Homo sapiens: one gene and its partners. The protein of the gene in region 3 purifies or fractionates together with the protein of the main gene of each other region. This does not show direct contact. Each region holds a gene or a part of one and is shown on either strand. Other genes may lie near its edges. The genes, in order: XRCC4, ASAP1 and CWC27.

Evidence for each region.
Region 1: the proteins of CWC27 (region 3) and XRCC4 fractionate together in Homo sapiens (co-fractionation; one large-scale study listed by BioGRID). This does not show direct contact.
Region 2: the proteins of CWC27 (region 3) and ASAP1 fractionate together in Homo sapiens (co-fractionation; one large-scale study listed by BioGRID). This does not show direct contact.

What each region holds. Positions count from the first base shown.
Region 1 is NC_000005.10:83,199,450-83,203,107, forward strand, and holds part of XRCC4 (DNA repair protein XRCC4), read left to right. Parts: intron 1-3,658.
Region 2 is NC_000008.11:130,111,649-130,115,306, reverse strand, and holds part of ASAP1 (arf-GAP with SH3 domain, ANK repeat and PH domain-containing protein 1), read left to right. Parts: intron 1-2,984; coding exon 2,985-3,213; intron 3,214-3,658. UniProt on the Homo sapiens protein: Possesses phosphatidylinositol 4,5-bisphosphate-dependent GTPase-activating protein activity for ARF1 (ADP ribosylation factor 1) and ARF5 and a lesser activity towards ARF6.
Region 3 is NC_000005.10:64,775,335-64,778,992, reverse strand, and holds part of CWC27 (spliceosome-associated protein CWC27 homolog), read right to left. Parts: intron 1-3,658. UniProt on the Homo sapiens protein: As part of the spliceosome, plays a role in pre-mRNA splicing. Probable inactive PPIase with no peptidyl-prolyl cis-trans isomerase activity. As a component of the minor spliceosome, involved in the splicing of U12-type introns in pre-mRNAs.

The DNA of each region.
Region 1 (3,658 bases), about 18 Mb from region 3:
CTCTATTCAGACTTTCTTTTGACATACAACCCTGACCTGGGCCAGATATAATTTTGGCCAGAACTGATTATTAATTTAAGGATTACTGCACTGTGTCTAAATACCATATGTTCACATTTATATATCTATTATTTTATTTTGAGCTATCATTTAATCTGTTGTTTCATTTTTGGTGTTATTTCTGCATGAAATTGTTGTGTTTTTCCTCCTAGTTTGTTATTGTTTTGACATGTTATTCTTAGATTGTTTTCCCACCCAGAGACATTTTATTTTGAATATTCAGTATTTTTTTGTATTTTTTTATCCTTTTAATTTTTTAAAAAAAATTACTATTTTTTTGTCCAAGGTTTTAGATACCTCAGTGCTAGGTTGCTAATTAAATTTAGCATTATTGTTCTGTTTTCCTAGTTATTGTAGAAAGGATGAAGTATCATTAGACCTTTCTTGTTTGATGTTATTTGTGATTTCGTCCCAATTTGAGATTTGCCTGGATTTGATCCTTGGACTAGTGTGGTCTGATCTAGTTGTACATGGGCTTTTTGTTAGTGTCACCAGACTTAGCAGTGAATCCCATGTCTCTTCTCCACTAAATGTTCTCACCTAACAGTTCCTGTCCAATTTCTTGAGGCATAAGCTTGACAGGAAGCACGTAATGGAATGCATAGTAACATCATAATGCTCTAGGAGAGGATTGGCATTAAAAATTAGGTGGGAATGATACGACATACCTCTTAGTTACTGATTATTGGATAAAAGGATAGCATTCTCTGAGTCTTGAAAAATTAAAAGTTAAGAGTAAATTCATGTCATGCAACTGTTCACACTAATACTTTTTCTCCAGTCAGCTCCCGCTCCCCCACTTTTCTAGGAAGTGTTGTCCAGTTTGATGATCAGAAGTTTGGTTGCAAAAAAATCCTAAAGCTTTGCTGAAACCAAGCAAGGTTAACTCACATGATACCATTCATTCTATTGACTGTGTTTTCCTGTCACAGAAATGTTTCCTTTGACAACATAGATCTGATACTGGTTACTTAAGATTAACAATATTCTTTAGGAATATTATATGATATTTCATTTTCATATTTATTTTCACTTTGAATGTGTCATACCAAATGTTAATTTTAATAAAGGTTTGGGAATTAGCTTGTTAGTTGTTAAGTACACATCATCATTCAATCAAGAATTATTGAAGTGACTTATATGGAAATTAAATATGGACTTAAACCAGATAAATTACTAATTGGTTACCATTCCTAAAATTTAATATAAGAAATTGTAATATATTTGTTTATATGTTTTCACATATTGGTTTTTACTTTGCATATGTTTGAAGTATGTTATTATATACTCAGGTATTTCAGTAATATGTATGTTTTAAAGTTTTTTGTTGTGTTTTTTTGAAAATATTATAGGAAGATAAGAATATCATGCTTACGTAACACTGAATCTGAAATATAAATGTAGTGACATGTCTTTGCTTAAAATAAACTATCAATATTGCTAGCTCCTTTTCAATATTCAGTTTTTTTCTAACATCTTTCGTGTACTTCTTTCTCAGAGAACTTTGCTTAATGAAGGGAATACTGTTAGATTGATATTATTTGCCACAGTTTTTTTAAAAGCTGAAGATGAAAAACATTACTTTTACAATGGTGAATAGCTATTAAATGAGGGAAAAAATACAATATTCGGAATCACTGTTTTTCTGTTTCCTTATAAGATGTCAATATTAGCCATTCTCCTTGGCTCTTCTTCTTTGCTGGAGGGCTATAGTCAGCCATGGTGCCCAGCAGGAATGGCATAATCCTGAAGCCCCACTTTTGTAAGTACTGGCAGTGGCCTATAGCAATATGGTTCACCCAGCCTGCAAGGAAGAGCCACAGACATGGGACTGGGCAAGCCCACTGCATTGCCCGGTGCCTTGTATCTGGACCCACTGGCCCCTAGTAAAATGCCCCACATGAGGTTTCACACCAAGTACAAGCTGGTAGGGGCTTCAGCTTGGAAGAATTAAGGGTGGCCAGCATCCACAAGAAGATGGCCTGGACCATTGATTTCTCTATTGATCCAAGGAGGTGAGACAAGTCTACTGAGTCCCTGCAGGCCAATGTATAACAGCTGTAGGAGTACTGCTGGAAGCTTATCCTCCTTCTCTAGAAACCTCAGCCTCCGAGAAGAGAGACAGCTACACTGAAGAACTCAAATTGGCCATCACACTGACAGGACCGGTAATGTTCATATGAAATACCTATACGAAGGAGAAAGCCAGAGTCATCACCAAGGAGGAAGAGAACTTCAAGACTGCCACGTCAGGCCAGGTGCGGTGGCTCACGCCTGTAATCCCAGAACTTTGGGAGGCTGAGGCAGATGGATCACGAGCTCAGGAGTTCGAGACCAGTCTGACCAACATGGTGAAACCCTGTCTCTACTAAAAGTACAAAAATTAGCCAGGCATGGTGGCAGGTGCCTGTAATCTCAGCTACTCGGGAGGCTGAGGCAGGCGAATCGCTTGAAACCAGAAGGCAGAGGTTGTAGTGAGTGGAGATCGTGCCACTGCCCTCCAGCCTGGGCAACAACAGCGAAAGTCTGTCTCAAAAAAAAAAAAAACAAAAAACCTGCCATATCAATGCCTGGCTCTTTGGCCTCTGGGCAAAAAGGACCAAGGAAGCTGCAGAACAGGATATTGAAAAGAAAAACTAAAGCACTGTTGAGGCCTTGTAATAACTCTGCAGAAAAGCTGGGAAAACGAATAAACCACTGGGAAAATAAATAAACCAAAAAGATGTCCATATTAATTTATTCACTTTATTCGTTTGTCTAATAAGAACCTACCAAACATCTGTCGAATGCTAAACACTATGCTGGGCACTGAGGATACAGTGGCCAATAAAACACACATGCTGTCTGCTTTCGTGGAGTTCACATCTTTGGCAAAGACTGTGCTGTAAGAATTTGCTGAAATTGGTCCCAGAGAATATATTGCCATATTTTCCTTTTTATCCTATGATACGTTCTAATTCTTTGCATCTCTAGATAGGTAGATTGTTGAAAGTTTAAGGGCATGTATATAAAAGCTATCTAATTTGGACATTTGTGTTTCTAATTTCACTGAAATATATATGTGTGTGTCTATATATGTACACACACATATATATTACTACTGGTATATATGTGTGTGTGTGTTTATGTACAGTATAAAAATACTAGGATACCTGTAAAACAACAACAATGTAAATAAGCAGTATGAAACAACATTGAAAAGAATACATAAAATAATTTGTATTTGAATCAATAAAATAGGAATGTATTCATCATGTATGTGTATGCATATATTAAGTATATACAACCTCAGCTATTTTGCTTTCTTTATATATCTCTTGGGAGCTTAAAATAAATACAATCCCTTGTTAGCTCATTTGAGCAGTATGGGATGAATTAAAAACAATAGAGAATTTTGTATGTTTTGTCTTACGTATCTAAATTTGAAGATATGTAGTGTTTTACATTTGCTGTTTTATTAATCTCTCCTTGAATATATCAAGTAGAATACTTTCATTGGGTATGTGTATTGCATTTCTATATGTATTTGTGTGTGTGTGTGTGTGGTGCTCGCTTATAAGAATATAACTGGATAAGTCGTGTTCTTGTTGTGGAGCAG
Region 2 (3,658 bases), on a different chromosome or scaffold from region 3:
GTCTTCAGGCTAAAGACAGTCTGGAGGCAGCATTCCTTACCCTTTGGGGGACCTCAGTCTTTTTAAGGCCTTTCTTTGGCTGATTAGGTGAGGCACACCCACATCATGAAGGGTAGTTCCCTTGACTCGAAATCTACTCATTTAAATGGTAATTGCATCTAAAAAATTCCTTTACAGCAACATCTAGACTAGTATTTGACCAAACACCAGGACACTGTAGCCTGTTGACACATAAAATTAACCATGAAGCTAGGCATGGTGGCTCATGCCTATAATCCCAGCGCTTTGGGAGGCCAAGGCAGAACTATCGCTTGAGACCAGGAATTCGAGAGCAACCTAAGCAAAATGGTGAGACCCTGTCTCTACAAAGTAAATGGATCAATCAATAAAACGTGGTGGTGCTATTTGACAAGCTGAGGCAGGAGGATTGCTTGAGCCCAGGAGTTTGAGGCTGCAGTGAGCTATGATTGTACTACTGCACTCTTGACCTGAATGACAGAGCAAGACCCTATATCTTAAAAAAAAAAAAAAAAAAAATTAACCTTCAAAACAAGTAATTAGTAAGTAAATAACAGTTGTTATTTATTGAACATAATCATGCACTGTATAATAACATTTCAGTCCACAACACACTGCATACTCAATGGGGATCAATATAAGATTAAAACGGAGCTGAAAAATAGCCATCACCTAGTGATGCCATAGATGTCATAATACGGTAGTGCAACACATTCCTCAAATGGTTGTGGGATGCTGGTATAAACCAACCTACTGCACTGAGTTGTATAAAAATGTACAGTAATGTCCTAGGCCTTCACTCACACCCAGAGCAGCTTCCAGTCCTTCCAGCTCCATTTATGGAAAGTGTCCTACATAGATGTACCATTTTTTAATCTTATATAACATGTTTTTATTTTACCTCTTCTATGTTTAGATACACAAGTAATTACCATTGTGTTACAGTTGTTTACAATGTTTAGTATAGTAGCATGCTGTACAGGTTTGTAGCCTGGGAGCAATAGGCTATACCATATAGCCTAGGTGTGTAGTAGGCTCTCCCATCTAGGTTTGTGTAAGTATACTCTATGATGTTCGCACAAGAACGAAATCACCTAACACATTTCTCAGAATGTATGCCTGTCATTAAGGAATGATGTTCATTAAATATGGATTAGACAGATTTAAGCACTTACGTTATCTCAGATCATCTTTATTGAAAGTCCATAACTGAGTGCTGTGGCTCACACCTGTAATCCCAGCACTTTGGGAGGGTGAGACGGGTGGATGCCTTGAGCCCAGAAGCTTGAGACCAGCCTGGGCAACATGGCGAAACCCTCTCTCTACAAAAAATACAAAAATTAGCTGGCCGTGGTGGTGTGCGCCTGTGGTCCCAGCTGCCCGGGAGGCAGAGGTGGGAGAATCACCTGAGCCCAGGAACTCAAGGCTGTGATGAGCCAAGATTGTCCCATTGCACTCCAGCCTGGGTGTGGGTGTCTGAGTGAGACCCTGTCTCAGAGGAAAAAAAAAAAAAAGTACATAAGGGACATTGTTATCCCCATTTTACAGAAGAGAAAACTTACAAAGAGAATTTAGCAACTTGTCTAAAGTCTCCCAGCTAGTAAAGACAGTTTGGAGGATTAAACCCAGTTCTCACTGAGTTTTCCTTATAAGCAGTTAACTACCTCTGAAAGTTCATTCATGCATTAATTGATTGCCTATGTATTGGACATTTCCTGTATCACAGGCAGGATGTAAGGAATGGCCAAAGAGGTCCTCAAGCCTTAACAACTTTAAGAGGAAATAAATTATAATACAATGTGATAATCATTATAAGAGTATGGAAAAATTCCTGAGAGCTATTCAGAGGACCAAGCAGCTGCCTCAGTCTGCCTTCTCAAGGACATTGGAGATGGGTTTCTAAGGATAGGTGGAAGCTTGCCAGGGAAAGAAGTGGGGTGGAATGCATCATTCCAGAACACCACGTGCCAAGGGAAGGAGTCATGGTAGAGTCTGGATGTCGGAGGAATGGAGAGAAGCACTGTGTGTGAGATGCATTCACCTGGCTGGGTGGGGAGAGGCAGGCAGCTGCCTTGTAGAGTCAGGCAAACCAGATCAGGATGGCTTTGTGGGCAAGGTTTGGCCTTTGGGTTTTTGTGCAAGCAGTCAGAAGCCCACAGAGGTTTATTGTCTAAAGAGCAAGGTTTCCCACCAGCTCTGGCTGCAGTGTGGAGAATGGACTGGAGGAAGGAAACTGGAGAAGGGGCCATTCTGGAGGCTAGAGCTGCAGTGGGAGCTGGTGAGCACCTGTACTAGGAGGGGCTTCAAGGGATATTTCCAAGGGGAATGCAGGAACCAGGGACTCCAGGTGACACTGAGGTTTCTAACCTGGGCAGTTGAGTGGATCCTAATGCCATCACCACAAGCGCAAATACCAGAGATACCTCATGGGCCATTGGTTTGGAACACAAGTCACTGGGGTTGTATTTACAGATCTGTAAGTAATTATTGTGTAGCGGGCAGTGGGTGTGAATCCGTTTACTTTGCAGGGGGATATAAAATGAGAAAAGAGGCAAAGAAAGAACTTCAACGTTAAAGGGTTGAGCAGGGAACAAAACTTAATGTAGCAAATTAGAAATAGGTGGAAATACTATTCAAATGTTGCTGAAAAAGTCCTGCATTCTGAAGGTGTTTGCTTATTAAAAGTTAAATCTACCTGTGACCTTACTGTGCTTCTGACACTGCTGCTGATCCTAACCAGTGTTTCACTAGTGTGATTATTCATAGTGGTGAACGATATGAAAGTGTGGTATCTAGATCCTTCCCTTGTACTGTGTCAGCATCATGAGGCTCATTGTGGCTGACCTCATAAAGCTCAGAGAGCCACAGGAACCCAGATTCCCACCTGAGCCCGCCCTGCGGAGGCCCTCTGTACACATGAAGGGTGGTCCTTGATTATTATCTCACCTTCTTATTTCATCTGCCAGCCAAGCCCTATCAAGAAAGAGCGCTCACCCAGACCTCAGAGCTTCTGCCACTCCTCCAGCATCTCCCCCCAGGACAAGCTGGCACTGCCAGGATTCAGCACTCCAAGGGACAAACAGCGGCTCTCCTATGGAGCCTTCACCAACCAGATCTTCGTTTCCACAAGCACAGACTCGCCCACATCACCAACCACGGAGGCTCCCCCTCTGCCTCCTAGGAACGCCGGGAAAGGTATGGGCTTTGAGAAGGGCTTGTGACTCCATCCTCGAAGGGCTTGTGACTCCATCCTCAGAGCTGATAGTCTAGCCAGCTTTGAGGTAAGAATTGCAAGGTACATTTGAGTGGCGCGGATCGTGTTGTCAGGAGCAGCTTGAAATAGGGACCATGCCATTTGCCAGGTACCAAGAGCAGGACAGGCAGTGCTGTGGGCTCTCTTTGTGCATTATTTGTGTTAACCTTACAACAATCCTGTGAAGTATGTGCTTTTGTGCCCATTTTACAGAAGAGGAAACTAAGGCTCAATGAGATACACTGACCAGCCCAAGGTCACACCACTGGTAAGAGGTAAAGTTGAGATTCAATCTGAGGTCCACGTGGCTCCAGAACCTGTACTTTTTATAATGTGGAGTGGAGTTTCAGTTCTCTGGAAAGTTACTTTTCTCTACATTAAAATGCC
Region 3 (3,658 bases):
TTGCAAAGTATAACTGGATATACAATGCATATTTTAAAAATTATAATCTGTATTCTAACAACTGTATTTAGTACACAGTACATAAGAAGTAGAAAGGAAGACCAGCTGATTTTTGCTTAGTCCCTTCTCCCATTGCAGGGCAGTTGGGCTGCATTTACAAGAGCTCCCTAGTGCAGACAAATTCCCTCTGGTTACAAATAGATACTATAAAAACCAAAAGGTCTTAAAGTATCTCTCCTATATTCCTAGGTAACCATTTCATCAGTTACACTAACACTGTATGTAGCAGTCAGGAGTTTGAGTCTTGCCTTTTGCTAGCTATACAGTCTTAAACTCCATTTTCTCATAAATCTAATAACATAAATTAAGGCACAGTGTCAATCTGAAGATTAAATAATATGAAAGCAAACTACACATTTTCAAGTTCAACACAAATGTGAGGTCAAACTAATATCTTCACTCAAATGCTACAAATTCATATTCAAATTTGAATATAAAATATACCCCAGTATATATCATATAATGAATATTCATCTAGACCCATAATAAGCAGCCAACCAATACTTTTTGAGCACTGTGCACATGATCAGATTTGCATTTTCAAAATGTCACTCTTACCCAGTGTGAATATATTAGAAAGAGACATGACTGGAGAGAGAGGGGGAGTGAGAGAGAGAGAGAGAAAGAAAGCAAGAGACAGCGCAAGTGCATGCGACAGAGAGCCAGTGAGAGAATGCAAGCAAGCAACTACTATCCTGAGGTCATTACATAACTATGGCTTATCTTGAGATACACAGATTCAAGAACTACTTATGAAGCAAGATCCATAAAACCCAGATATATGTTACCTGTGACGGAAAAAGGACATGAAAGAGGTCTTTATTACTTGTGTTTTCAAATTTTAGAATTTCACCATTTTCTTTCTTTTTCCTATTTCCCATTAAGTATTTCAGTGATGCTGGCTTTTTATTTTAAGATTTTCTTTATGATTTTCCTAGTTATATTCCTGTTGAATGCATGAAATTATTATACTATATATAAATGAGTAAAAATTTTCTATACTCTCTACACTATAACTTTGTATTCTAACATAGCTGGAATTTCCAATGTCCACAAATCTTCCATATCTACTATTTCTACTTCTTTGTAATTTATTAGTAATCACTATTGAACTATGCATTTATAGTTGTATTTATAGTTTATAATACTGTATATTTTGCTGCTTGCAATGTTTATTTGATTTTCTTAAATTTTTATGCATCATCACAAGTGTTTTGAAAAAGCTTTATTATTTCATTATGCACGTTCATAATATCCTCCTGAATGTTCTCCACTATTGAAAAAAGATACCTAAATGTATCTTAAATATGAAACAAAGTTCCTATTTGATTGCTGTCATTCTAGTATTTGTCACATGGTTTCTATTTCTGGCTACAATAATCTATGGGCATTATCATATATTTTGACTAATTATATTTCTTGCCCAAGTTCATAGAGGAATTTATACTTGCACTTTAAAGTAGTTATACGTTTCTTCTTCTAGAATCCTGTTTTGTGTTTAACTATGTAAATGTTATCATTAATAACTTTTTATCTAACACTCATCTTGCGACCAGTCTGCACTATCTGGTATTTTTTTAAACAAATATTTTAGTTTTGTAAAGAAATTTCTTTTAACTTATAGCATATTTATGCTTATATTTGTCACTCTAAAGAATTAGTAAACTATTATTAAAGAATAAAAGATAAGCAATGAAGTGTGGACCATGATGAGACAAGAATGATGTGAAATAAAGGTGAAGAGATTAGTAGTCACACAATGTATTAAACATTTTGATTTTCTTATCCACTTCTCCCTCTGCTCCCCACTTGTCTATAAAACAAACATAAAATTATACTCCTTCCTCACACTGGAGGAACTAATGAAATTATCAAAGCTAATAAGCTTCCCTTTCATTCCTTTATATCTTTTTTGCTCTATTTTTTAATTGATAAGTTTTTAAAAGTTCCACTCATTTTAAATGTCCACCTAACTATGCTGCAAAGACCAAAAATCTAAGATTAAGTCTGTATAATGTAGATCCTTTGGTTTTTTAAAGGCTATAAACCATCCTTTGGCTATGAACATCATTTTAGTTGAGGGCCATATCTGAGACTGCGCTCTTACTTGTTCATGTTTTATTCATTTGCTTTTAAATTCTGGAAACCATGCTTTAAAAAAATAAATATGAGTGTTTCAAGATCTAGAAACATTATGACTCGTCTAAATCATAGAAGCAAAGAACTAAAATGGGGTTTTCTGGATTATATTTTTGAAACCTTGACTTAACTTATTTAGGAGTATCCTTGTTTAAATCAGTCTTCTTAGGCTTCATGTTAGCCTTTCCAATAATAATTCTATCTCTATTCAATTAAGAGGATTGGTGAATTTGATTAAGATAATTGTTGTGGTTATTTTTAAAATTATTTTTCTATTCTTTCTTCTTTCTCCTTGCATTATTATAAATAGGGGAATAATTGTTGTAATAATTGAGTTTTATCATCACCCAACTTAAGAACCTCATTTCTTCTTCACTGTCACATTGTATCCAGATGTTTTCTGCTTCTTCCATTCACCTGGTCATGGATTGCAATTTACCATTCATTCTTTCTAATGTTTTTGTAATTTTACTCTCCTTCTGTAAAACTTGAGCTTTTGAATCTTCAAAACTTCTTACCAGAAACAAGTCTGACTTTTTCATGTCTCCTGTGTTTCTCAACTTGGTTAACAGATATTTGAGGCCTCTCTGACTGAACTACCTACCTGACTCTATTTCCTTCCTGCCTGCCACAGCAATTATTAATAATGGTCTTTGCAGATGTCCTTTCATTCTCTCTCTCTCTCTCTCTCTCTCTCTCTCTCTCTCTCTCTCTCTCTCTCTCTCGCTCCACTCCTCCCCACCTCTCTCTTTTGGAGAGGGGGTGGTATCTGGGTATTTTTCATTTCTTAAATCTTCACCTGATAATTACGTCTATTTAGAGAGATCTCATCATACCATACTACTGGATTCTCTTTCACACCTTGCTTCTGACCCAAAATGTTGTTTTCTGATACCTTGAATAAAACTGTCTCTAAAAATCAAATATAACTTAGAAGAACAATGATTTGCCACCGCTGGAGATATTCCAAACCATATGTAATGTATTCTAGAAGCCAACAAAAAGCTCTAAAAATGGAAGGTTTACTTCCCTAAGAGAATACTCTGCAGGGAAAAACACTTCAGTGGATGTATAATTCTGCAGCATTTTAAAAAAAGAAAAATAGTTACTTTATGACTCAAATCTAAAAAAACTAGAGACATTGATAATAATATCACTGGATGCTAGCTGGAAGGCTGTGTGGAGAAACTAGAATTTTGAACAGACATTTAAAAATGGGTAGACTTAAACAGTAAAAAAAGGGAAGAAAAAGCATACCAAAAGAAGGGGAACTAGTATGAGGACATGTATGAAAGTGGAAACGGAAAGGAAATGCTTAGGAAATAATGTCCAACTAAAACCATGTGGTTAGTGCAATGAGCTAGAAAGTTGGATAGCTAGGAAGCCAAGCTGCCTGAGGATTCAAATACCATATAAACAAGGAAGAGAGAAAAGAAATTAAGGATGAAAGACAGGAAGG